Homo sapiens: one gene and its partners. The protein of the gene in region 2 purifies or fractionates together with the protein of the main gene of each other region. This does not show direct contact. Each region holds a gene or a part of one and is shown on either strand. Other genes may lie near its edges.

The links. The genes of interacting proteins can lie anywhere in the genome.
Region 1: the proteins of CS (region 2) and LAP3 fractionate together in Homo sapiens (co-fractionation; 2 studies listed by BioGRID). This does not show direct contact.
Region 3: the proteins of CS (region 2) and TRAP1 purify together in Homo sapiens (affinity purification with mass spectrometry; 2 studies listed by BioGRID, with this or other methods). This does not show direct contact.

Annotation. Positions count from the first base shown.
Region 1 is NC_000004.12:17,593,571-17,601,683, forward strand, and holds part of LAP3 (cytosol aminopeptidase), read left to right. Parts: intron 1-1,839; coding exon 1,840-1,964; intron 1,965-3,475; coding exon 3,476-3,564; intron 3,565-4,885; coding exon 4,886-4,988; intron 4,989-8,113. UniProt on the Homo sapiens protein: Cytosolic metallopeptidase that catalyzes the removal of unsubstituted N-terminal hydrophobic amino acids from various peptides.
Region 2 is NC_000012.12:56,289,578-56,297,690, reverse strand, and holds part of CS (citrate synthase, mitochondrial precursor), read left to right. Parts: intron 1-8,113. UniProt on the Homo sapiens protein: Key enzyme of the Krebs tricarboxylic acid cycle which catalyzes the synthesis of citrate from acetyl coenzyme A and oxaloacetate.
Region 3 is NC_000016.10:3,686,039-3,694,151, reverse strand, and holds part of TRAP1 (heat shock protein 75 kDa, mitochondrial isoform 1 precursor), read left to right. Parts: intron 1-3,166; coding exon 3,167-3,325; intron 3,326-5,014; coding exon 5,015-5,097; intron 5,098-8,015; coding exon 8,016-8,113.

The DNA.
Region 1 (8,113 bases), on a different chromosome or scaffold from region 2:
TCCTTTGCATCTTCATATACATTTTAGAATCTGCTTGGGTTTTTTTTTTTTTTTTTTTTGAGACAGTGTCTCACTCTGTTGCCCAGGCTGGAGTGCAGTGGTGCAATCTTGGCCCACTGCAGCCTCGACCTCCCTGGGCTCAGGTGATCCTCTCACCTCAACCTCCCGAGTAGCTGGGACTACAGATGCGAACCACTATGCCCAGCTAATTTTTGTATTTTTTATAGAGATGGGGTTTTGCCGTGTTGCCCAAGCTGGTCTCGAACTCCTGGGCTCAAGTGATTTGCCTGCCTCAGCCTCCCTAAGTGCTGGGATTACAGGCGTGAGCCACCACACTCGGTGAATCTGCTTGTTTTTTCACACAACAAAACCTACTGAGATTTTGATTGAGATAGATTTTGTGTGTGTGTAAAAATGTGCTGTTTTTATGGTTAATGAAATGACAGTGGTGAGACTGATACAGAAAGACCCGTTAAGGAGACCTGACAAACATCCAAATGACAGAGGGTAGTAGCATCAATGAGGGCGGCTGAGTAGAAAATAAGTGGGTGGATTTGAGAGAGATTGAAAAAGTGAGCCAAAGCTGATTGCTGATCTTTAACTGGTGGCTACCTTAGAACCATAGTCATAGGAATTAGAGAGCAGAACTTCCAGAAGAGGCCTGCAGATAAATGTGGCAGGTGGACAGAAGAAAAACTTCAAATACAACAGCGTGTTCCCTTTGTCCATGGGGTTTACCCATGTTATTTTTCTTCTTTGAGCCAGGGGATCATCTTTAATTCTTGGTGAACATGCCAACCATCTAAGTAACAAGTGCTTCTGAGGTAAGTGAGAATTAGGATTTAATTTTGAAGGAAAGCAGACTTCAGAGCAGCAGGCAGACCTCTCTCCAGTGAGCCACCAGGGCACATGAGCAGCAGATCTCAATTAGAACTTAGAGTCGAAGCCCCTGGCTCTGTGCTTGGCCTGTGAAGCATGTTGCTTCTGGACTCCTACGGACTGGAAGCAGAAAAACCACTAGCTAGTTAGAAGCCTCTGGGGGTCAGGTAGTTTGGTTTCTTGCTAATTGCAGCCTTATTCAGTTCTCATGTTGAAGTACTGTCTCTCAGCCATTGGGCCTGTGCCTCATTTAGGTTGTATTTTGCCATCAGCAGGATATAGCACACCTTGTGCAGTGTTGGAAGGAAATGTTAGCCCTCTGTCCTGTCGGTTTCAGAGAAATGCCTCCAGTCATCTCTGTGAGCTCATCAGCTTTTCTTAACAGCTCATGACCTTCACGTTCCATAAGTTGATCAATTCATAAAATTTGCTGAATAGACTATGTGGGTGTCAGGAGTTAATCAGACAATACAGAGATGGAATTTGCACAGTCTTGATTTTATGATATAGTAATGTTTCCAGTGGCACTGTTTAAATTTCATTCAAGTAGAAATAAAATGAGCTAAAGGCTGGGCGCGATGGCTAATGCCTGTAATCCCAGCACTTTGGGAGGCCGAGGCTGGCGGATCACGAGGTCAGGAGATCGAGACCATCCTGGCTAACAAGGTGAAACCCCATCTCTACTAAAATCACAAAAAAATTAGCCAGGCATGGTGGCAGCTGGGACTACAGGCGCCCACCACCACACCCGGCTAATTTTTTTGTATTTATAGTAGAGATGGGTTGCACCGTGTTAGCCAGGATGGTCTCGATCTCCTGACCTCGTGATCCGCCCACCTCGGCCTCCCAAAGTGCTGGGATTACAGGCGTGAGCCACCGTGCCCATCTGTACTTTTTAAATAAAGTGATTTTGGCCATCTTCTTTGCTCTTAATATTGCACGTTGTCCATTTCCCCATAGTGGTGGTATCTCCATCAAGGCTTCTGCAAATATGGACCTCATGAGGGCTGACATGGGAGGAGCTGCAACTATATGCTCAGCCATCGTGTCTGCTGCAAAGCTTAATTTGCCCATTAATATTATAGGTAAGTGGGGTAACGGATTACATCTCATAACGCTTCTGGATTCTAGCCAGGTGGGAGAAGAGAGACAACAGATATGATTTCCCCTAATCTGAAAAGATAAGAAATGATTTTTAAATAGTCATCAAGCAGTAGCTATTTAGCCCAGATAAGTGTTTTACTGTCTGAGCTGATTGAGCTAAATGTATCTTGCAACCAGTGGGCTGTAACTGGAATTGATTTGTTTCACTTCTGCAAAAAGTGGCTAGCAGTCAGGGGCACATAATGTCAAGTTTGTAGTTGACATTATGAAACTTGCTGGGTACTTGGGGTGGCAGGACGTTGCTGGCTCATTGACTGATTGCTTCGTAGGATTGTGGCCGGTGAAATGGCACAACACACAGAAAGTGCCTAGAACAGAAAAAGTGCTCATTATGTGGCAGTTCTTAGTAATGGAAGATACAAACTCCCAGGCACAGTACTGGGAGTTTGTATAATAGCATTGCTCATACTCATTTCAGAGGAGACGGGGAAGGAGGAGAGAGTCTTAGGTTAAATAATAATGCCCTGACTCTTGTCCATTGCACAAGGAAGGTAGAATTGGAATCCAGGTCTCAGACATGCCCCCCTCCTTCACTATCATAGTCCTTTTTTTTCCTGAACTATTTAAAAGTCAGTTGCAGACATCACGACACGTCCTCTAAGAAAAAGGACATTCTATGTAATGACAAAACCATTATCTTTTCCGAGGATTAATTCAGTAACCTAATTCAAGTTTCCAGTTGTGTAAAAAATGTCCATTTTATTTATTTATATTTAGGTTTTTTTGGTTTTTTGGTTTTTTTTGAGATGGAGTTTCGCTCTTGTTGCCCAGGCTGGAGTGCAATGGCGCGATCTTGGCTCACCACAACCTCCACCTCCCGGGTTCAAGTGATTCTTCTGCCTCAGCCTCTTGAGTAGCTGGGATTACAGGCATGCGCCACCATGCCTGGTTAATTTTGTATTTTTAGTAGAGACGGGGTTTCTCCATGTTGATCAGGCTGGTCTTGAACTCCTGACCTCAGGTGATCTGCCCGCCTTGGCCTCTCAAAATGCTGGGATTACAGGCATGAGCCACCGCGCCTGGCCTATATTTAGCTTTTAAATCCAGAAACTAATCAAGGACCACACATTGCTGTTGGTGCCCCTTTAGATTTCTTGATTCTAGACCCTATTCCTGTTTTCTTCCACGGCATTAGCAGTTTTGAAGGGTCTAGGCTTGTTTCATGATATTCTGCAATTTGTATTTATTTGAATTGCTTCTTCTTGATTAGAATCAAGTTAGACTTCTTTGGGAAGAATGCTACATGGGTGATGTGTACTTCTTGTTGCTGACACATCATGTCAGTTGTGTCATTGGTGATGTTAAATTTGATCAGTTCGTTAAGGTGGCCTTTGTGTCTTGCTTCTCATGGCTCACAGGTGGCCTCTTGTCCCATAGGTGGCATGTTTGGACCCAGTATATACTGTGTGCCTTCATATATTATTTCCAATAGGTCTGGCCCCTCTTTGTGAAAATATGCCCAGCGGCAAGGCCAACAAGCCGGGGGATGTTGTTAGAGCCAAAAACGGGAAGACCATCCAGGTTTGTAAATGTGAGACACAGCACTCCCCATCCAGCGTTCCTCAGGAATCCCGTGGTGGCCACATAACCACAGCTAGGATGCGTGCAGAGCCCCAGAACCATATTAGGGGAGGGTGCTGTCTTTAGTGCTGGGTAGCCTTTCTTTTCCTTCCCTTTCCTGAAATGGGGTCTCGCTGCATCACCCAGGCTGTAGTGCAGTGGCGTGATCATGTCTCACTGCAGCCTTGACCTCCCCAGGCTCAGGTGGTCCTCACACCTTAGCGACCTGAGTAGCTGGGACCACAGGTGCGTGCCACCATGCCTGGCTAGCTTTTTGTAGACACAGGGTTTTGCCATGTTTCCCAGGCTGGTCCCAAACTCCTAGACTCAAGTGATCTGCCCACCTTGTTCTCCCAAAGTGCTAGGATTACAGGCGCGAGCCACCATTCCCGGCCCCTGAGTAGCTTTTCTTGCAAAGGCAGAAGTATCTTTTTTGGGGGATTTTGAAGAATGTTTTTCCAGACTTATTGTTCCTCCCATTTCCTGTATGCTATACATGTGTATACACACGTTTCCATGAATTTGCTGCCAGCCCTGCAGAGGGCGGCAAAGCAGTAAAATTGTGGGCTATCTTCTGGATATACCTGTGCTATGAGTGACTTTTTTCCATTGTAGGTGTTGAGGTAGAACATACTGTCCTACATCATGGGCCCTGCACTGAAGGGGATGTGGCAGCAGGTCCTCTGGGTGGCACGTGCATGCAGGTGTGTACAAGCCACTCAGAAAACGACTGGACCTCTATTTAAAAGAAAGGAATATAGTTAGGAAGTGTTACTGAAGTTGCAAGAGTTTTCATTTCTAGGATTGAGACTGCCATGTAGCTGTAGCTTTCTTAAAGCTCTTTAACCTCATTTTTGGAAATCTTTACATTTTTCCCCTTCTTGTTACAAAGTTACGGGTAAAATGGACTAGACATTTTTCTATTTATTTTGGCTTCCAAAGTCATCAACATTAGGTCATCAGCTCTGGTACAGTGATTATTATATTATTATTTTTTTATTTTTAATTAGAAATGGGGTTTCACCATCTTGCCTAGGCTGGTGTCGAGCTCCTGGGCTCAAGCTGTCTGCCCACCTCTACCTCCCAAGGTGCTGGGGGATTATTAAATCATATTTGCTCTCCAGATTAGATATGTTCCTATTCTCATTGAAGTATGAATGGTTTGATAATGACACACGTCACAGTAGCTTTTTCCAACTTTTCCGTCGAACACTGTTGCAAGTGTCTAGTTTTCATATTCTTTACTTGCGCTGTCACCCTTTCTGTTTTTGACCCTCTGCAGGTTGATAACACTGATGCTGAGGGGAGGCTCATACTGGCTGATGCGCTCTGTTACGCACACACGTTTAACCCGAAGGTCATCCTCAATGCCGCCACCTTAACAGGTCAGACCGCGCACTTGCCTTGATTTTGTTTGAAGGAAGTCTTGTTCGTTGCATGGATTTCACACACTATACTTGTGGCATTATTTTGCTAAAATTTGGCTTGGTCCATTGGCATTCAAAGATCTTTCACCAGAGGAATTGTTCTGCAGTTGTAAAATGTTTTGAATATTAGGTTTGTCGTTTTAAAACATTCCAAGCTGTACTTTTTTTTTGAGACGGAGTGTCACTCTGTCATCCAGGCTGGAGTGCAGTGGCGTGATCTTGGCCTCCTGAGTTCAAGTGATTCTCCTGCCTCAGCCTCCCAAGTAGCTGGGGTTACAGGTACGCACCACCAGTCCTGGCGAATTTTTGTATTTTTAGTAGAGACGGGGTTTTTGCCATGTTAGCCAGGCTGGTTTCGAACTCCTGAACTCAGGTGATCCACCCGCCTCAGCCTCCCAAAGTGCTGGGGTTACAGGCATGAGTCACTGTGCCTGGCCTAATTTTTATATTTTAGTAGAGATGGGGTTTAACCATGTTGGCCGGGCTGGTCTCAAACTCCTGACCAAGGTGATTCACCTGTCTCAGCCTCCCAAAGTGCTGGGATTACAAGATTACAGAAGTGAGCCACTGTGCCCAGCCTGGGCTGTACCTTTAAGCAGAAATAACAAGTGCGCCAGATCAGCTCATCTAGAGTGACATCTAAAAATGATGTTAAGAGCCAGGAGCGGTGGCTCACACCTGTAATCCCAGCACTTTGGGAGTCCGAGGCAGATGGATTATGAGGTCAGGAGATCGAGACCATCCTGGCCAACATGGTGAAACCTTGTCTCTACTAAAAATACAAAAATTAGTTGGGTGTGTGGCACGTGCCTGTAATTCCAGCTACTCGGGAGGCTGAGGCAGGAGAATTGCTTAAACCCCAGAGGTGGAGGTTGTAGTGAGCCGAGATCATGCCACTGCACTCCAGCTTGGTGACAGAGCGAGACTCCCTCTTAAAAAATAAAATAAAATAAAATAAATGATGTTAAGAGATTGTTTCTGTTACAATTACCATTTGATACAGATCTGAAAAGATTAGTGATAAATCCCCAAGTCAATAGCTTTCTTTTACTTTTTTAAACTAATTGTAATGTATCTAATACCCTCTGAGCTTTCAGAGCTTTACTTTTTTTTTTTTTTTCTTCTGGAACTTTTTATACTTGATGTCATAAGGAAATAAAAACATTTTACCAGAGTAGCAGGATTCTCATTTAACAAGTGACACAGTGTGAAGCCAGCGCTTTAAGGCCAGGCTCAGGTGGAACTCCCAGCTGTGCCACTTACTAGTCAGTTAGCCGTGGGCAAGTTTCTTGGCCCTTTTGAGCATTGGTACTTGGGGACAATTCCATTTGCTTGGAAGAGCTGTAAAGGCTGGAGGGAGTTTCTTGAAAGCCTCTTTAATACAGGCTGTGACACCACCAGCCCTGGAGGGCTGGGAATAGATTCCTAAAGGGATGACAAACAAGTGTTGTCTTATTGCCAAATCCCAATGTTCATAATCTTGCATCCAAATGTTCTCTTCCTAGTAATTCATCCTGACTCTACCCCTTTTTAAAAAAAATTAATTTCTGAATCTTAAAGTCAGACTCTACCTCTTTTAAGATGAAAATTTAGATCATTTTTTATCCTTTGGTTTTATTCTTGCCCTGGTCATGTTGAGCCTTTACTTTGGCAGAAATCATGTTCCCTTTTGTATGTAGGTCTAAAAATAGTCCACAGGTCTATTGCTAAGAGTTTTTTTTCAAAGCTGGCATTATAGTGTTTTCATGGTTTTTGGTCTATCTATTCAGTTTAGCAAACACTTTACCTGAAAAGCAGAGCTTCTAGGGTGGGGGGTTGGGGGAGGCACTGGCAGTGAAGCGAGTACCCCCTTACTGTAAATGAGGAATCACAGAGGATAGATACATCAGATACGTCAAGTTCTACAATTTAAACATAACGTTCATAATTACCACTTGGGGAATACTTTTCCTAGATGCTTAATAGCAGCATTCTACCCCACTTTTTTCTCAGTCTGAGGGGTTGAGAAGGTGGGAAAGTTGGCCCTACGTAAGCAAGGGTGACCTTCTGGGTGAGCTTTCAGACCACACCAGGTGATGGTTCCCCAAATACTACTGAGCCCCTTCTGAGTTCCAGAAGCTAGGGTTCCAAGAGGAGAATAAGAACCAGTTTCTAAACTCAGGCTCTTGATAGGAGGAAGTACACAGTCTTCAGAAATAGAAGACCTGATTTTAAAACTTGTCCTAACTTTTAATAGCACGTTAAAAGTTGGACTAGGCTTTAGTTGTCTCATCCATAAAAGGGGTATAATAGCACCTCGTTCACAGGAAGGATGCCGTGAAGATTAAATGAGACAATACAGGTTGATGTCCATGGCCCAGTACATCATAGACACTGAAACAGATGTTACTGTCCTTTGCCTTTGAAAGGCAGGCCGTACCCCAGATTGTAGGAACAGTGACATATTCGGGGATGGCCATATCCAATCACAGTGTTTCTTTTCATTTTCTTAATGCTTGGGCATAATTTAGGATTGAATGAGTGTGGTGCTATCCTCACTTTCCTTGGGGCTTTGATGTTTCTTCCAGACTATGAGCAATTCTGGTAACATTGATCAGTGAGCATCACAACACAGGGCTCCAAACGTGCCTTGTAAATAAAAATGGGAAGTATGCCTCTGCTACTAGTAGTTCTGAAATGGGCTGTGGAAATAATTCTGGAATTATAGAGAATAAACTATTTAGCTATATAATAAAATCATCTTTAGAGCCGTGGTCCCAACTGGACCACCTTAAATACTTATGTCTGCCATTTTTTATTACTTTAAGGGAAGATAGCATGGTCTTGTTTGAGGGGATTGTTCATCTTTTCTATGACAAATTTTAAAACTGATAGATGACTCTTAGGGGGTTGACTGAAATATTTTGAGGACAAGTGAATAATTATATAAAAAACCACTAACTTGTAAAGTATTAATAGGTATGTATATATTGTCCCTCAGTATGCGTGGGGGATAGGTTCTAGGATCCCCCCTCAGATACCAAACCCACGATGCTCACATCCCTTATGTAAAATGGCATAGTATTTATATATAACCTATGTAC
Region 2 (8,113 bases):
ACTCTGTCACTCAGGCTGGAGTGCAGTGGCGTAATCTCCGCTCACTGTAACCTCTGCCTCCCAGGCTCAAGCGATTCTCGTGACTCAGCCTCCTGAGTAGCTGGGGTTAGCAGGTGTGCACCACCACGCCCAGCTAATTTTTTGTATTTTTGGTAGAGACGGGGTTTCACCATATTGGCCAGACTGGCGAATTTTTTTAACCTTACTAGGAGACAACATGTGAATTAGTCATTGTTCTATTGTTCTACTCTCACTGTCACATAATTTAAATGTCACATAATTTAAAACACCTGAGTTAGAAGCTAATTCAGAGAGCTTTGAGATTATTTGACTTCTTGTTTATCCAAATTCATTAATGCTAAGCAATGGCCTTAGTATTATCTGTGGGTGACTCAGTTTTGTGACATCAAAAATGTCTTTTCACAGATGATCTGGGTTTGGATTTGGGCTAGGAATTGAAGTAGGGCTGCAGTTCACTTCTGGACTTTTGAAGTCAACATGCTTAACCAACCCTAGCTAAAGGGAACTGTCTCTTGAGCCACTGAAAATTGCTTCTCCAAGCTAGTATGTTTGAAACTGAGTAAATCAATTCAAAGATGTTTCTAGATTACTTCTAGACTTTTTCAAGACACTTAAATGCAAAGGAACCAATGGTTTCTTTACATTGGACTTATACCACTGTACAACATCACCTGTATAAGTCCTACTCAGAAATTGGGTTCAACAAAACCGAGTTGGTTTTGTCCTGCAAAATATTTAGTTAGGTTTTAAAGCCCAAATTTTTTAAAGGTAAGGGCTCATATCTCTGTGCCCTCACTTTGACTATCAGCCTACCCAAAGTAACGGTGATTCCTTGATACTAGAATGGCAGGGGAAGCCTTATGGGGTGTTAGTGGTGAGATGACTGCATTTGGTCTTCCCAGTGGCCTTTAGGTTGGTAGCAGGTGAATGAATGCATGGGGAGGCAGCAAGAATAGTATGGTAGGTAGCAGCGATAGAGTTGGCATTCCTGACTTAAAATCCAAGGGGCAGCAGAAGGGAAACCAGACTTGGTGGATTTCAATAAAGCCACACAATGATTCTTTCTGCCCTGTGTCAATACTTTATGCAACAGAGTAGGATGTGAAATTTAAAACCGTAATGAGGCAACTGTAGCAATAGATCTTTCTTAGCATCTGATTATCTTTCAGTTCTGGCTTCAACTGTGCTTCAACTGCACAAGTTCCTTAGTTCTCTGTTTTGGGTTTTTTTTGGGGGGTGGGGCTGGAGTGCAGTGGTGCGAACATGGCTTGCTATTACTACAGCCTCAACCTCATGGGCCCAAGCAATCCCCCCGAGTAGCTGGGACCACAGGCACGCACAGCCACGCCTGGCTAATTTTTTTGTAGTTTTTTTGGAGACAGTGTTTTGCCATGTTGTCCAGGCTGGTTTCGAACTCCTGGGCTCAAGCAATCCACCAGTCTCAGCTTCCCAAAGTGCTGAGATTACAGGCGTGAGCCACTGCACCCAGCCCTCTGTATTTCTTTTAACATGATGCTATTTTAAAAGGTCTGTAAACTCACAGTGGGCATTGTCACCTGTAATGCTTGCTTATGTTGCAGTTTCCTGGATCCTACCTTCAGATTACAATTCTGCAAAGTAGGATGGGATCTGGAAAAGTTTCTTGTAAATCCCTAAAGTGTCAGGGAGTTAAAACTTGTAAGAACTTCTTTTTTTTTTTTTTTTTTTTTTTTTTTTTTGAGACAGTTTCGCTCTGTCGCCTAGGCTAGAGTGCGGTGGCTCGATCCCGGCTCACTGCAAGATCCGCCTCTGGGGTTCACGCCATTCTCCTGCCTCAGCCTCCTGAGTAGCTGGGACTGTAGGCGCCCACCACCTCGCCCCGCTAATTTTTTGTATTTTTAGTAGAGACAGGGTTTCACCGTGTTAGCCAGGATGGTCTCGATCTCCTGACCTCGTGATCCGCCCGCCTCCACCTCCCACAGTGCTGGGATTACAGGCGTGAGCTGCCGCGCCCAGCCATAAAACTTCTACGAACTTCTAGCAGAAGTAAGGGAATAGTTTCTAATTCCTGAGAAAGTATTATGATGACAGATCCTATATTCTTTATTCACTAGTATATACTTAGTGTACACATAATAAGTAGGTGTTCAAGAATTTTTTTTTTTTCCTTGAGATGGAGTCTCGCTCTGTCACCCAGGCTGGAGTGCAGTGGTGTGATCTCGGCTCACTGCAACCTCTGCCTCCCGGGTTCAAGCTATTCTCCTGCCTCAGCCTCCCTAGTAGCTGGGACTACAGGCACATGCCACCACGCCGGGCTAATTTTTGTATTTTTAGTAGAGATGGGGTTTCACCATGTTGGCCAGGATGGTCTTGAACTCCTGACCTCGTGATCCACCCGCCTCAGCCTCCCAAAATGCTGGGATTACAGGCATGAGCCACCGTGCCCGGCCAAGAAATATTTATTAGCTAGGCATGATGGCTTATGTCTATAATTCCAGCACTTTGGGAGGCTGAGGTAGGAGGATCACTTGAGCCCAGTAGTTTGAGATCAGCCTGGCAACATAGCAAGACCTTGTCTCTTAAAAAAAAAAAAAAAGTTCATTAAATTAAAGTACAATAAGTGTTGGCCAGGCACAGTGGCTCACGCCTGTAATCCCAGCCCTTTGGGAGACTGAGGTGGGCAGATCACTTGAGGTCAGGAGTTCGAGACCAGCCTGGCCAACATGGTGAAACCCTGTCTCTACTAAAAATACAAAAATCAGCCAATCGTGGCAGCTGCCTGTAATCCCAGCTACTAGGGAAGCTGAGGCACAAGAATCACTTGAATCCGGGTGGCAGAGGTTGCTGTGAGCTGAGATCATGCCACTGCACTCCAGCCTGGGCAATAGAGTGAGACTCGTCTCAACAAAAGAACAGTAAGTGTTCCTACTGAAAGGAAAGTTTAATACTTGTGATTCCTGGCTGGGCATGGTGGCAGGCACCTATAATCCCAGCTACTCGGGAGGCTGAGGCAGGAGAATCGCTTGAACCCAGGGGGTGGAGGTTTCAGTGAGCCGAGATCGCACCACTGCACTCCAGCCTGGGTGACAGAGACTCTGTCTCAAAAAACAAAAATAGACTTGTGATTCCTTTCTGAAGATGGAAGCTGGAGGAGTATCTTTTGCAGTCCTCCTTACTGAGTGATCAGTGCATCTTTTTTTTTTTTTTTTTTTTTTTTGAGACAGAGTCTTGCTCTGTCGCCCAGGCTGGAGTACAGTGGCATGATCTCGGCTCACTGCAACCTCTGCCTCCTGGGTTCAAGCAATTGTCCTTTCTCAGCTTCCCGGTTAGCTGAGATTACAGGTGTGCGCCACCGTGCCCGACTAATTTTTGCATTTTTAGTAGAGACAGGGTTTCACCATCTTGGCCAGACTGGTCTTGAACCCCTCACCTCAGGTGATCGGCCTACCTTGGCCTCCCAAAGTGCTGGGATTACAGGCATGAGCCACTGCACCCAGCAGTGATCGGTGACTATTCACGTGAAGAGACTGTTGGAAAATGACAGTTAGGTAGAATTATTAAGGAAATGTCTGTAAGTATGAAGGAGGTCAAAGTATGAAATCTGTAGATTGCTCAGGCTTTTAAGTGGCCTGACCATGTAGTGCCAAACCGACTTCCAGTATCACCGTTGTGAAACACACACATTAAATGGCTTTAGTTCTCTGACCTGGTTCTGGGGAGAGAGGAGCCTTTGTCCTATTTGTGTTCGTGTTCTCTGAATGCAAGTTGTTCCTTCTGCATTGGAAGTGTCTGTAGTACAGGATTTTTTCCTACTGGTTATTAGTGTATTGTGTTTGCTCCATCAGCTAAGCCAGTCCTGCTGGCTTGGCAAGCTCTGATCTTTTGTTGATGAAGGACGAAGTCCCTGTTAAAATCAGGAGCTTCTTCCGCAAGGTTTTTCTGTTTTGTTTTCTAATTTTTTTTAGTATTATTATTTTGAGACGGAGTCTTGCTCTGTCACCCAGGCTGGAGTGCAATGGCGCAATCTCAGCTCACTGCAACCTCCGTCTCCCAGGTCCAGGCGATTCTGCCTCAGCCTCCCGAGTAGCTGGGACTATAGGCATGTGCCACCACGCCTGGCTAATTTTTGTATTTTTAGTAGAGATGGGGTGTCACCATGTTGGCCAGGCTGGTCTTGAACTCCTGACATCAGGTGATCCACCCACCTTGGCCTCCCAAGGTGTTGGGATTACAGGCGTGAGCCACCGTGTCCAGCCTGTTTTCTAATTTTTTAAATTATTTTTTGTAGAGACAGAGTCTTGCTTTTTAATTCAGAAATGCTGGGATTATAGGCATGAGCCACTGCGCCCAGCCTCCCCCAAGGTTTTAATGTTGGTTATGTGGATATGTGGTAGGACATATCCTGGATATGCAGAAGGACAGAGAGAGTCTGGATGTACCTAGGATGGAGAATCAAAGAAAATTTGGCTTCTTGACTGTAGGGTGAGGGTGCTAGATGTGGAACAGTGATGGTAATAGGCTAAGGAGTAAGAGGAAAATAACCTATATTGAGTAAGTGGGCTTTTTTTGTTTTGTTTTGTTTTTTGAGACAGAGTCTCCTCTGTTGCCCAGGCTGGAGTGCAGTAGCACAATCTCAGCTCACTGCAGCTTCAGCCACCTGGGTTCAAGCGATTCTTCTGCCTCAGCCTCCTGTTTGAAATGCTTGTTCCCTGGTGCTGTAAAGAAATAGCACTTGAACATAAATTTAATTAATTTAATTTAATTTACTCAGCAAGGCCTTTTTTTTTGAGACAGAGTCTCACTCTGTCGCCCAGGCTGGAGTGCAGTGGTGCGAACTCGGCTCACTGCAAGCTCTGCCTCCCAGGTTCACGCCATTCTCCTGCCTCAGCCTCCTGAGTAGCTGGGACTACAGGCGCCCGCCATGACGCCCGGCTAATTTTTTTTTTTTTTTTTTTTTTTTGTATTTTTTTAGTAGAGATGGGGTTTCACCCTGTTAGCCAGGATGGTCTCGATCTCCTGACATCATGATCCGCCTGCCTTGGCCTCCCAAAGTGCTGGGATTACAGGCGTGAGCCACCGCGCCAGGCCATCAAGGCCATTTTTATACTTTCTGCAGAAAGGGTACACGCCAGCAGTTTTGCCACGAGAGTACACCGAGCAAAGGAGACAGGGTCATTTATACCCTGATGCATCCACCCTACTGCTGTGTCCAGTTCCAGTTTCCATTGGCTGGAATGGGACCTCACATTTTGTATTTGTCCTGATTGGCTAGCAACTTAGAACTTTTTTTTTTTTTTTTTTAGACCAAGTCTTGCTCTGTCAGCCAGGCTGGAGTGCAGTGGCACAATCTCGGCTCGCTGCAGGCTTTGCCTCCCGGAGCTTCTCCTGCCTCAGCCTCCCGAGTAGCTGGGACTACAGGCACCTGCCACCACACCTGGCTAATTTTTTGTATTTTTTAATAGAGACGGGGTTTCACCATGTTAGCCAGGATGGTCTTGATCTCCTGACCCCGTGATCTGCCTGCCTTGGCCTCCCAAAGTGCTGGGATTACAGGCTTGAGCCACAGTGCCCAGCTGCAACTTAGAACTTTTTTAAAGAGGCAAAGGCAGAGGAGAACAAAGGAAGGTGTGAGTCACCATACCTGGCCTCTTTTAATTTTTATATTTTTTCATCTTACCACATTTGAGGGCTACAGCCCACCTCTATCAATAATAGCTGACTCACTAGAGGAGTTCTTGTAAGGGGTGGCAACAAATGAGCTCTTAGTGATTGTGGGGGAAAAACCTCTTCGTGATTGTGATAACGCCACCTCCACCCTATAGAGAATACTGGCTGTCAGACATTGTGAGCCAGGCCCTTGTCTTTGGAAGTAGCCCTCTCCATCTCTCCCCATGAAGGAGCTGACCTATTGAGTGAGATGACTGCCTGATTCTCCTGAGAGCTGCTGTTCCAGTAAGGTGACTCTACAGGTGGCATGCATCCAGAAGCCAAAAGCCCAACTGTCACACCTCCAGGATTAGGGGAGAATCTGGGAGGTAGAAGTTCAGGGATGATTCAGAGGTTTGTAATCTACCTGTCTCATCAATGAACATAACCTGAATGTACTGTTCAGAGCCATTCAGCAGCTTTCTTTGGCAGCCACGGGGTAGAGGAAATGAAATGTAGCCTTTGATGTTACAGTCCTCAAGCACCTCCTGTCTAGAGTCATTTGCTCTGCTGGTGGCCATCAGGGTTAGTTAAATTTGTTTCCTCTCCCTGAGATGCCTCCCTTCTTGGTCAAGAAGCCCTTAAAAAGAAAACTGGTATCTTTTCCTTGATGCCTGTTAAAAAAAAAAAAGAAAGAAAGAAAGAAAGAAAATTGGGACTTTATTTTGTATTCCACAGCTGGAAGGAATTATCCATTCACCTCTGCCTCAGGCTTGACTGCCTCTTTCCTGGGATCCAACTCCCAGGAAGTTCTGACACTTGATGGTAGGTGATAGGCCAACACATTTGTAAGAAACAAATATTTACTGAATTCAGCTATGCACAAAGCACTGTTCTAGATGCTTTTATGAAAATTATTTTATTTAGTTTACTTAACTACTCTGAAATTGGCTTTTATTATTACCATTTTAGAAATGTAAAAACTGAGACTTAGAAATTAGGTTACATAGCCAAGATAACACAGTGGGAAGGTGGCAGAACGTTCATTTAGGACTTGGTCCTTGGTAACTCCATATCTAAACTGTTTGGATTCAGTAAGTCTGAGGCCCAAGAAATGTAAATACTTCTGGCGAGGAGGTCACATTTTAAGTAACAAGACTTGACTACTTTTGCATATACGTCCTTATTGGAACCTGAGAATCAGACTCTGAGTTAAGTAGTTTAAGTGTTATCTTAATTATGGAAATGGGAAGAGAAATAGTAGTTCATTGTTTTCCTTTGGTTGTCTTAATTAGTAATGGAGCTAGGACTAGAACCCAGACTTCCTTTCCTAACTCCAAATTAAGTGCTCTGTACTCTACATCATTAGATAAAGTTGTCCTAAGTTGAATTTTTTCTACTCTACCCTTTTGAGCAATCTTACCAATGAATTGCTGCCTTTAAAATTCCTCTGATAACTTTTTTTTTTTAAGCTTCAGGTTTAGCAAAAAACATGACTGAACCTGACACCGAACGGTGCTAGAAAGTGGCTATCAGGCTGAGCGCGGTGGCTCACGCCTGTAATCCCAGCACTTTGGGAGGCCGAGGTGGTGGATCACGAGGTCAGAAGTTCGAGACCAGTCTGGCCAACATAGTGAAACCCCATCTCTACTAAAAATACAAAAAATTAGCCGGGTGTGTTGGTGTGCACCTGTAATCTTAGCTACTCAGGAGGCTGAGGCAGGAGAATAGTGTGAACCTGGGAGAGGGAGGTTGCAATGAGCTAAGATTGTGCCATTGCACTCCAGCCTGGGTGACAGTGTGAGACTCCTTCTCAAAAACAAACAAACAAACAAAAAAACATAAAATCTTCCGGGCACTGTGGCTCATACCTGTAATCCCAGCACTTTGGGAGGCTGAGGCAAGTGGATCATTTGAGGTCAGGAGTTTGAGACCAGCCTGGCCAACGTGGTGAAACCCTGTCTCTACTAAAAAACTACAAAAATTAGCTGGGCATGGTGGCGGGTGCGTGTAGTCCTGGCTACTCGCGAGGCTGAGGCAGGAGAATCGCTTGAACCTGGGAGGCGGAGGTTGCAGTGAGCCAAGATCAAGCCACTGCACTCAGCCTGGGCAACAGAGCAAGACTCGGTCTCAAAACAAAACAAAACAGAAAGTCAGCTGGTTGCAGTGGCTCATGCCGGTAATCTCAGCACTGTGGGAGACTGAGGTAGGAAGATCGCTTGAGCCCAGGAGTTCAAAGCCAGCCGGGGCAACATAGCAAGACCCCCGTCTCTATAAGAAAAGTTTAAAAGATAAAATTAGCTGGCCGGGCGCGGTGGCTCACGCCTGTAATCCCAGCACTTTGGGAGGCCGAGGCGGGCAGATCACGAGGTCAGGAGATCGAGACCATCCTGGCTAACACAGTGAAACCCTGTCTCTACTAAAATACAAAAAATTAGCCAGGCGTGGTGGCGGGTGCCTGTAGTCC
Region 3 (8,113 bases), on a different chromosome or scaffold from region 2:
AGACAGAGCCTGGAGGGTCTGCAAAGCATGAAACACCAAGGATGCCGGCTACTGCCAGAAGCTGGGGAGAGGTGCGGGATGGACTCTCCCTCGGCACCTCCAGTGGGAAGCACCGCTGCCCAGAACCTGGGACCTTTTTTTTTTTTTTTTTGAGACAGAGTCTCGCTGTCTCACCCAGCCTGAAGTGCAGAAGTGCGGTAGTGTGATCTTGGCTCACTACAGCCTCAACATCCTGGGCTCAAGTGATCTTCCCACCTCAGCCTCACAAGTAGCTGGGACTACAGGTGCACACCACTACACCTGGCTAGTTTTTGTGTTTTTTGCAGAGATGGAGTCTCACTTTCTTGCCCAGGCTGGTCTTAAACCCCTGGGCTCAAGCGATTCTCCTGCCTTGGCCTCCCAAAGTGCTGGGATTACAGGTGTGAGGTTGTGTGCCTGGCTCAGAACTGTGGACCTTTTTGAAACTGCCTAGTTTGTGGTGCTGTGTTTCAGTAGTCCTAGGAAACAAAATACACAGTCACATCAGTTTCTGGTTTATCCTTTTTGTGTTTCTTTTACACAAATGGTGAGAAACACTGATATGCTCTGTGGGCAGGTGTTGGCACTTGGACACTTCCCTCCTGTGCCCCCAGGGCTGGCTGTGCTTTGGAAGGAGGCACAGAGACTTCAGCACCCTGGTTTGATGTAGACTGTTCGCGAACTCCTCTAATGCCAAATACCATTTAATTCCAGAAGAAATGTCCCGGGATTTTTTTTTTTTTTTTAACTGTACGAATAAAGTGAACAATGCAATTACATGGGCCCAAATAACTGGATGTTTACATGGTTTGGAATTTGAATACTTTCTGAATTGTGGTAGATGTTTTTAAGGTATCTGCATAGAGATAAAGACAGGCTAGGGTTGGCCGGGCATGGTGGCTCACGCCTGTAATCCCAGCACTTTGGGAGGCCTAGGTGGGTGGATCACCTGAGGTCAATAGTTCGAGAGCAGCCTGACCAATAAGGTGAAACCTCGTCTCTACTAAAAATACAAAAATTAGGCATGGTGGCTGGTGCCTGTAGTCCCAGCTACTTTGGAGGCTGAGACAGGAGAATCGCTTGAACCCAGAAGATGGAGGTTGCAGTGAGCCGAGATCACTGCACTCCAGCCTGGGCGACAGAGCGAGACTCCATCTCAAAAAAAAACAAAAACAAAAGGCCAGGTTTGTGCTGTTTGTAAGTCCAGGAATAAGCCTAAAGAATAGGCAAGTTTTGGCTGGGCACGGTGGCTCATGCCTGTAATCCTAGCACTTTGGGAGGCTGAGGTGGGCAGATCGCCTGAGGTCAAGAGTTCGAGACCAGCCTGGCCAACATGGTGAAACCCTGTCTCTACTAAAACTACAAAAATTAGCTGGGTGTGGTGGCAGGCGCCTGTAAACCCAGCTACTCGGGAGGCTGAGGCAGGAGAATCGCTTGAACCCGGGAGGTGGAGGTTGCAATGAGCCGAGATTGCACCATTGCACTGCAGCCTGGGCAACAAGAGTGAGACTTCATCTCAAAAAAAAAAAAAAAAAAAAGGCAAGTTTTTGTACCTTTTAGGAGTATGAAAGTTGATATGTTAATTTTTTTTTTTTTTTGAGACAGAATGTTGCTCTGTCACCCAGCCTGTAGTGCAGCGGCACGATCTCGGCTCACTGCAACCTCCACTTCCCAAGTTCAAGCCATTCCCCTGCCTCAGTCTCCCGAGTAGCTGGGATTACAGGTGCCTGCCACCATGCCCGGCTAACTTTTGTATTTTTAGTACAGATGGGGTTTCTCCATGTTGGCCAGGCTGGTCTCGAACTCCTGACCTCATGTGATCCGCCTACCTCAGCCTCCCAAAGTGCTGGGTTTACGGGCGTGAGCCACCGCACCCCTGGCTGATATGCTGATTTTTAAAACCTTGATTCCTGGATATTCTGTTGTCTTTCCTTTCTACTTGTTACAAATTTGTGAAGAACAGGAGAGGCTCCCAGTTAGATGCGGTTCATTTAGGCTTAGACTTTGACACGGCGTGGCTGGCTGGCCACATATCCTTGACACCATCACGTATTGCAAATCTACTGACCAAGGCAGGGTCCTGGTATGTGGTCCCTGGGGTCAGTGGGTGTTGGTGTTGGGTCGGTCCAGTCCTGTGTTGGAGTGAAAGTGTCTGGTTTCTGGGCCTGCGTCGGTGAACTGCGTGCGGCTGGGGACACATTGGCTGCTTTCCTCCCTCGCTGGGCTCTGCCGGCAACTTTCTCAGCCCACTGGACTGAGCAGGAAGTTACAGAAGACAAGTCTCCTTCTTAGTTAGAAGGTAGAACCCATCGTCAGCTGTTTTTCAGTTTTTAAAGTACACAAATTTTTTTTAAAAAATCTGTTTTGGATGAAAAAGCAATGGGAAAGAATCAACTTTTAGAAGATGAGACAGTTTCAGAATATTAACATTTAAATATTTGGATCCCTTTTGGGAGGATTTTTTTTTTGCTTGACTGTCAAGAGCAAAGAAGTGTGGCCCATCGGGGGCTTCTGCAGGGGCTGCGAGGGTCGAGACAGGTTTCAGTTTGGTAGGTTGATGCGAGGTGTCACCCGTGAGGCGAATGTGGGAAGTGCTGTCAGCAGGCATCTGCCAGCTGGGCATGGTGGCTCACGCCTGTCATCCCAGCTCTTTGTAAGGCCAAGGCGGGAAGATGGTTTCAGCCCAGGAGTTCGAGACCAGTCTTGGCAACATAGCAAAACCCCATTTCTACAAAAAATTTTTTAAAAAATTATGGGGGCATGGTGGTCTGTGCCTGTGGTCCCAGCTACTCGTGAGGCGGAGGCAGGAGCATTGCCTGAGTCCAGGAGGTTGGGGCTGCAGTGAGCTGTGATCGCAGTGACAGAGCGAGACCCCCTCTGAAAAGAAGGCAGCAGCCCACCCCCTCCAGTTTCGCTTCTGCGGTTCTGAGAAGACACAGTATCTTACACTGATGACATCTGTGAGGGCTCCTTGCCAAAACCACACCCTGACACTGTGGCATTTGGTCCTGTGGATTTCTCTTTCAGCAACAGCCCGACTTAGAGATGTCCACGCTAGCTTCTGCTAGACACCCTTGATGGGACGAATTACCATATTGTTTCTCGTGTCTTCCTAATTCTCATTCTTTCTGCATATTTGTCTTTTCAGGAAAACCAATTCTGTGTCCTCGGAGGACCACAGCCCAGTTGGGCCCCAGGCGAAACCCAGCCTGGAGCTTGCAGGCAGGACGACTGTTCAGCACGCAGACCGCCGAGGACAAGGAGGAACCCCTGCACTCGATTATCAGCAGCACAGAGAGCGTGCAGGGTAGCCTTGGCTCGTGCTTTGGTCTGGGAGGGCTTTTTGGTTCACTGCTGTGCGTAAAGGGGCATTTTCAGGGTGGAGGCAGTGATTGGTAGAGCCACCGCCTTAGGTGTGAAATCAGAAGGTCTTGGCTGTAGGGAGTGCTGCGCCCTCCATTTCTGTCCCAGCGAGGGACTTCTGCCAGTGTCGGGTGTGTCTTGCCCCCTCTGGTGGCCACCCGTGAGTTTGCCGTCCGGCACCTCCCCTGAGTGGTGATTCATGGCACATCTGCTAATAATCATGGAAGCGGGAGGGGAAACTCAGCATTGGCCCAGTCTGCGCAGGACCGAATTCTGGAGCTGTCTTTTCATTCCCTCTGAAGTATAAAAAAGCAGTCTTTGGAGCCAGTCCTGAAGTGGCTCCATTTCTGGCTTTTAAGTGGGTCGACAAGAGTAGAATCTTTGAAGTTAAAAAGAGAAGTGAGGTTTTCTTGTTATTTTGATTTCTAACTAATTAATTTGGAAACCGCTTTTTTGAAGAATATAGTCCAGGCACAGTGGCTCACACTTGTAATCCCAGCACTTTGGGAGGCCGAGGCAGGAGGATTGCTTGAGGCCAAGTGGTCGAGACCAACCTGGGCAAGATAGACCCTTTCTCTACAGAAAAAAATTAAAAAGTTAGCCAGGCATGGTAGCACACACCAGTGGTTCCAGGTACTTGAGAGGCTGAGGCAGGAGAATCGGTTGAGCCCAGGAAGTTGAGGCTGCAGTGAGCACGATCCTGCCACTGCATAGCAGCCTGGGCAACAGAGCCAGATCCTGCCTCTAAAAAAAAAAGAAAGAACATATAATCTGGTTCTTAGAGGCAGTCCAGTTCTCGTAACCATGCACATTGGGAAACCAGGCTCAGCATTCCCTCGACATAGCCCGAGGCATGTCTGGCCTCAGCAGTGGGAGGATTTGTCCTGCCCTGAGACCTCCTTTCTGAGAGACTTTTTGTTTTGTTTTGTTTTGAGACAGGGTCTTTCTCTGTCACCCAGGCCGAGTGCTGTAGTGCAATCATGGCTCACTGAAGCCTCGACCTCCCTGGCTCAAGTGATCCTCCCACCTCAGCCCCCTGAGTCACTGGGACCACAAGTGTGTGCCACCACCGTCAGCTACTTTGTGTATTTTTTGTAGAGATGGCGGGATCCCTCTGTGTTGCCCAGGCTGGTCTTGAGCTCCTGGGCTTAAGTGATTCTCCTGCCTTGGCCTCCCAAAGTGCTGGGATTACAGGCATGAGCCATGGTGCCCAGCCAGACTTTGTTTCTGTCTGCTTCTTTCTTTTTGTTCATGATCTTAAATGTGTGGGAGGCCGAGGCGGGCCAATCATGAGGTCAGGAGATCGAGGCTATCCTGGCTAACATGGTAAAACCCCGTCTCTACTAAAACTACAAAAAATTAGCCGGGCGTGGTGGCAGGCACCTGTAGTCCCAGCTACTCGGGAGGCTGAGGCAAGAGAATGGCGTGAACCCGGGAGGCAGAGCTTGCAGTGAGCCGAGATCGTGCCACTGTACTCCAGCCTGGGTGACAGAGCGAGACTCCGTCTCAAAAAAAAAAAAAAAAAAAAGTTTAAAACTCATAAACTTAAGCTTTCTTTGGAATGTGACGTAGCGTATTCTTGCACAAAAATAGAAGTTAAACTTTGTTGGTTGTGTCTGTGTTTCATTACTAGGTTCCACTTCCAAACATGAGTTCCAGGCCGAGACAAAGAAGCTTTTGGACATTGTTGCCCGGTCCCTGTACTCAGAAAAAGAGGTGCGTTCCCTGCTAACCATGCCCGATGCTAGCAAAGTTTCTTTTCACAAAGCTGGTTTTTATGCCATTCTGGAGAATTGCCAGATAATATATTAGCTGTGAGAAAGCATTAAACTTTGGACAGGTCCTCATCTTAAGCTACCAGTGAGAGGAGTTTTACCAGAATCTGTTTTGGTTTCCTGGATAAGTGTATCCAGATGGTTCTTTGGGCTGGATCAACTCTGGGAATTAATTGAATTTTGCCAATAATTTTAAAAGTTCCCGAAATACAGGCCTGGTGTGGTGGCTCATGCCTGGGAACTCAGTGCTTTGGGAGGTCGAGGCAGGAGGATCACTTGAGCCCAGGAGTTTGAGACCAGCCTGGTCAACACAGCAAGACTCCGTCTCTACAAAAAATTTAAAAAATTAGCCAGCTATGGGGGCACTGACCTGTGGTCCCAGCTACTCAGGAGGCTGGGGTGGGAGGATGACTTGAGCCTGGCAGACTTTGGGGCTGCAGTGAGCCATGATTGTGTTACTACACTGACCTGCACAACAGAGTAAGACCCTCTCTCCAAAAAAAAAGTCCCCCAAATCCTAGCGTGCAGCTCTGCTGAATTCCGTCTCTGTGGAGCTTTGGATACGCTCTGAGGCCCCTTTGCCTGGTGGGACTACCTGCAGGTCTTGGCGGCTTTGGCTGCCGGAGGAAGAAGGTTCCCCAGTCCTGTGTGTATGGAGCAGGGAGGAGTTACTGAGGAAATTAAAACGCATTTGGGGCCAGGTGCGGTGACCCACACCTGTAATCCCGGCACTTTAGGAGGCCAAGGTAGGAGGATTGTGTGAGTCCAGGAGTCTGAGACCAGCCTAGGCAACGTGAAGAGACCCCATCTCTATTAAAAAAAACCCCGCAAAACTCATTTGGGGTGACAGGACAAGGAAAAAGAAAGATGAAGGCCACCATCGTTGACATGCTGATTATTGCTGGAAGGCAAAGGAGAGTCCTGAAGAAAGTTTGTAAAGCAGCAGATTTCAAAGCTCAGAGGGCCTTCTAGGAGCTGTTTCCGGGTTTCGTACTGATGAGTGCTGCATTCCTGACTCCCAGTGACCTCCAGCTTCCGCCCAGATCAGCCACCGCTTCCTCTTCACCTATGTGCTCTTGCGGACTTAATTTTTCTATTTTTAATTGTGTGGGTTTTTGTTTTTTTTTTTTTTGGTTTTTTAATTTTTTGGAACAGGGTCTGGGTCTGACGCCCAGGCTGGAGTGCAGTGGTATGATCTCGGCTCGCTGCAACCTCCGCCTCCTGAGCTCAAGCCATCCTTCCTCCTCAGCCTCTGGCTGATATTTGTATTTTTTTGTAGAGACGGAGTTTTGCCGTGTTGCCCAGGCTGGTCTTGAACTCCTGGGCTGAGGTGATCTGCCTGTTTCAGCCTCCCAAAGTGCTGAGATCACAGGTGTGAGCCACCACACCCGGCCTCTCTCACTGATTTTAAATGGAAGGTCTGTTTGAGGTCAGTGTGCTTTTCAGCTCCTGAGGGACAGCTGGGCCCTGAGGCCTGTTTTTCTCCGGGTGTGGTAGACCTGGTGTTTGGTGGTCCCCACTAGATGAGATGAAGCTAGGGAACCTGTTTTTGTGGAGTAGGAGTGTATTAGTCCATTTTCACGTTGCTGATAAAGACATACCTGAGACTGGGCAATTTACCAAAGAAGGAGCTTTAATTGGACTTACACCTCCATGTGGCTGGGGAAGTCTCACAGTCATGGTGGAAGGCAAGGAGGAACAAGTCCCGTCTTACATGGATGACAGCAGGCAAAGAGAGAATGAGCAAGACACAAAAGCAGAAACCCCAAAAAACTGTCAGATCTCATGAGACTTACTCACTACCACGAGAACAGTACTGGGGAAACGGCCCCCATGATTCACTTATCTCCCACCAGGTCCTTCCCACAACACGTGGGAATTATGGGAGTACAATTCAAGGTGAGATTTTCGTGGGGACACAGCCAAACCATATCAAGGAGAAATGGATGTTTGAGTGATATGCCGTCATCCCTGTGCAGGAGTTGGGAAAGAAATTGTTCCTCGCAGGCCTCTTTTGTTTGTTTTTTTGAGACAGAGTCTCTCTCTGTCGGGGCTGGAGTGCAGTGGTGCCATCTCGGCTCACTGCAACCTCCGCCTTGTGGGTTGAAGCGATTCTCCTGCCTCAGCCTCCTGAGTAGCTGGGATTACAGGTGTGTTCCATCACGCCCAGCTAATTTTAATATTTTTAGTAGAGACTGGGTTTTGCCATGTTGGCCATGCTGGTCTTGAGCTCCTGACCTCAAGTGATCCACCTGCTTCAGCCTCCCAAAGTGCCTGGATTACAAGCATGAGCCCCCAACCCCAGCCAGAGGGCTCTTCTTAAAGTTATAATTAACAGATGGACACGTAACTTCAGGCTTGATTAAAAATCCTGAAAAGGGCCAGGCACCGTGGCTCACGTCTGTAATCCCAACACTTTGGGAGGCGGAGGCACAACGATCACTTGAGCCTGGGAGATCAAGACCAGCCTGGGCAACATAGCGAGACCCTGTGTCTATAAAAATTTTAAAACAATTAGCTGGGTGTGGTGCATGCCTGTGGGCCCAGCTACTTAGGAGGCTGAGGTGGGAGGATTGCTTGGGTCCAGGAGGTTAAAGCTGCAATAAGCCGTGATTGCAGCCTCCAGCCTGAGTGACAGAGTGAGACTCTCAAAGAAATCCTGAAAGGAAAGTCAGCACCTTCAGTCACTTTGTGACCGGCCCAGAGGAACTGCCTTTGACTAAAGCAGAAACTCTTTATGCTTTGAGAATTGACTATTCTCCTCTACCTTTTAACAGTTATTGGAAGTGCAGCTGACCAGATAGATCCTGCAGGATGAGTGTCCTTCATTGTCTGTGCCTCCCATTTCTATTCCTGTAGGTGTTTATACGGGAGCTGATCTCCAATGCCAGCGATGCCTTGGAAAAACTGCGTCACAAACTGGTGTCTGACGGCCAAGCACTGCCAGAAATGGAGAT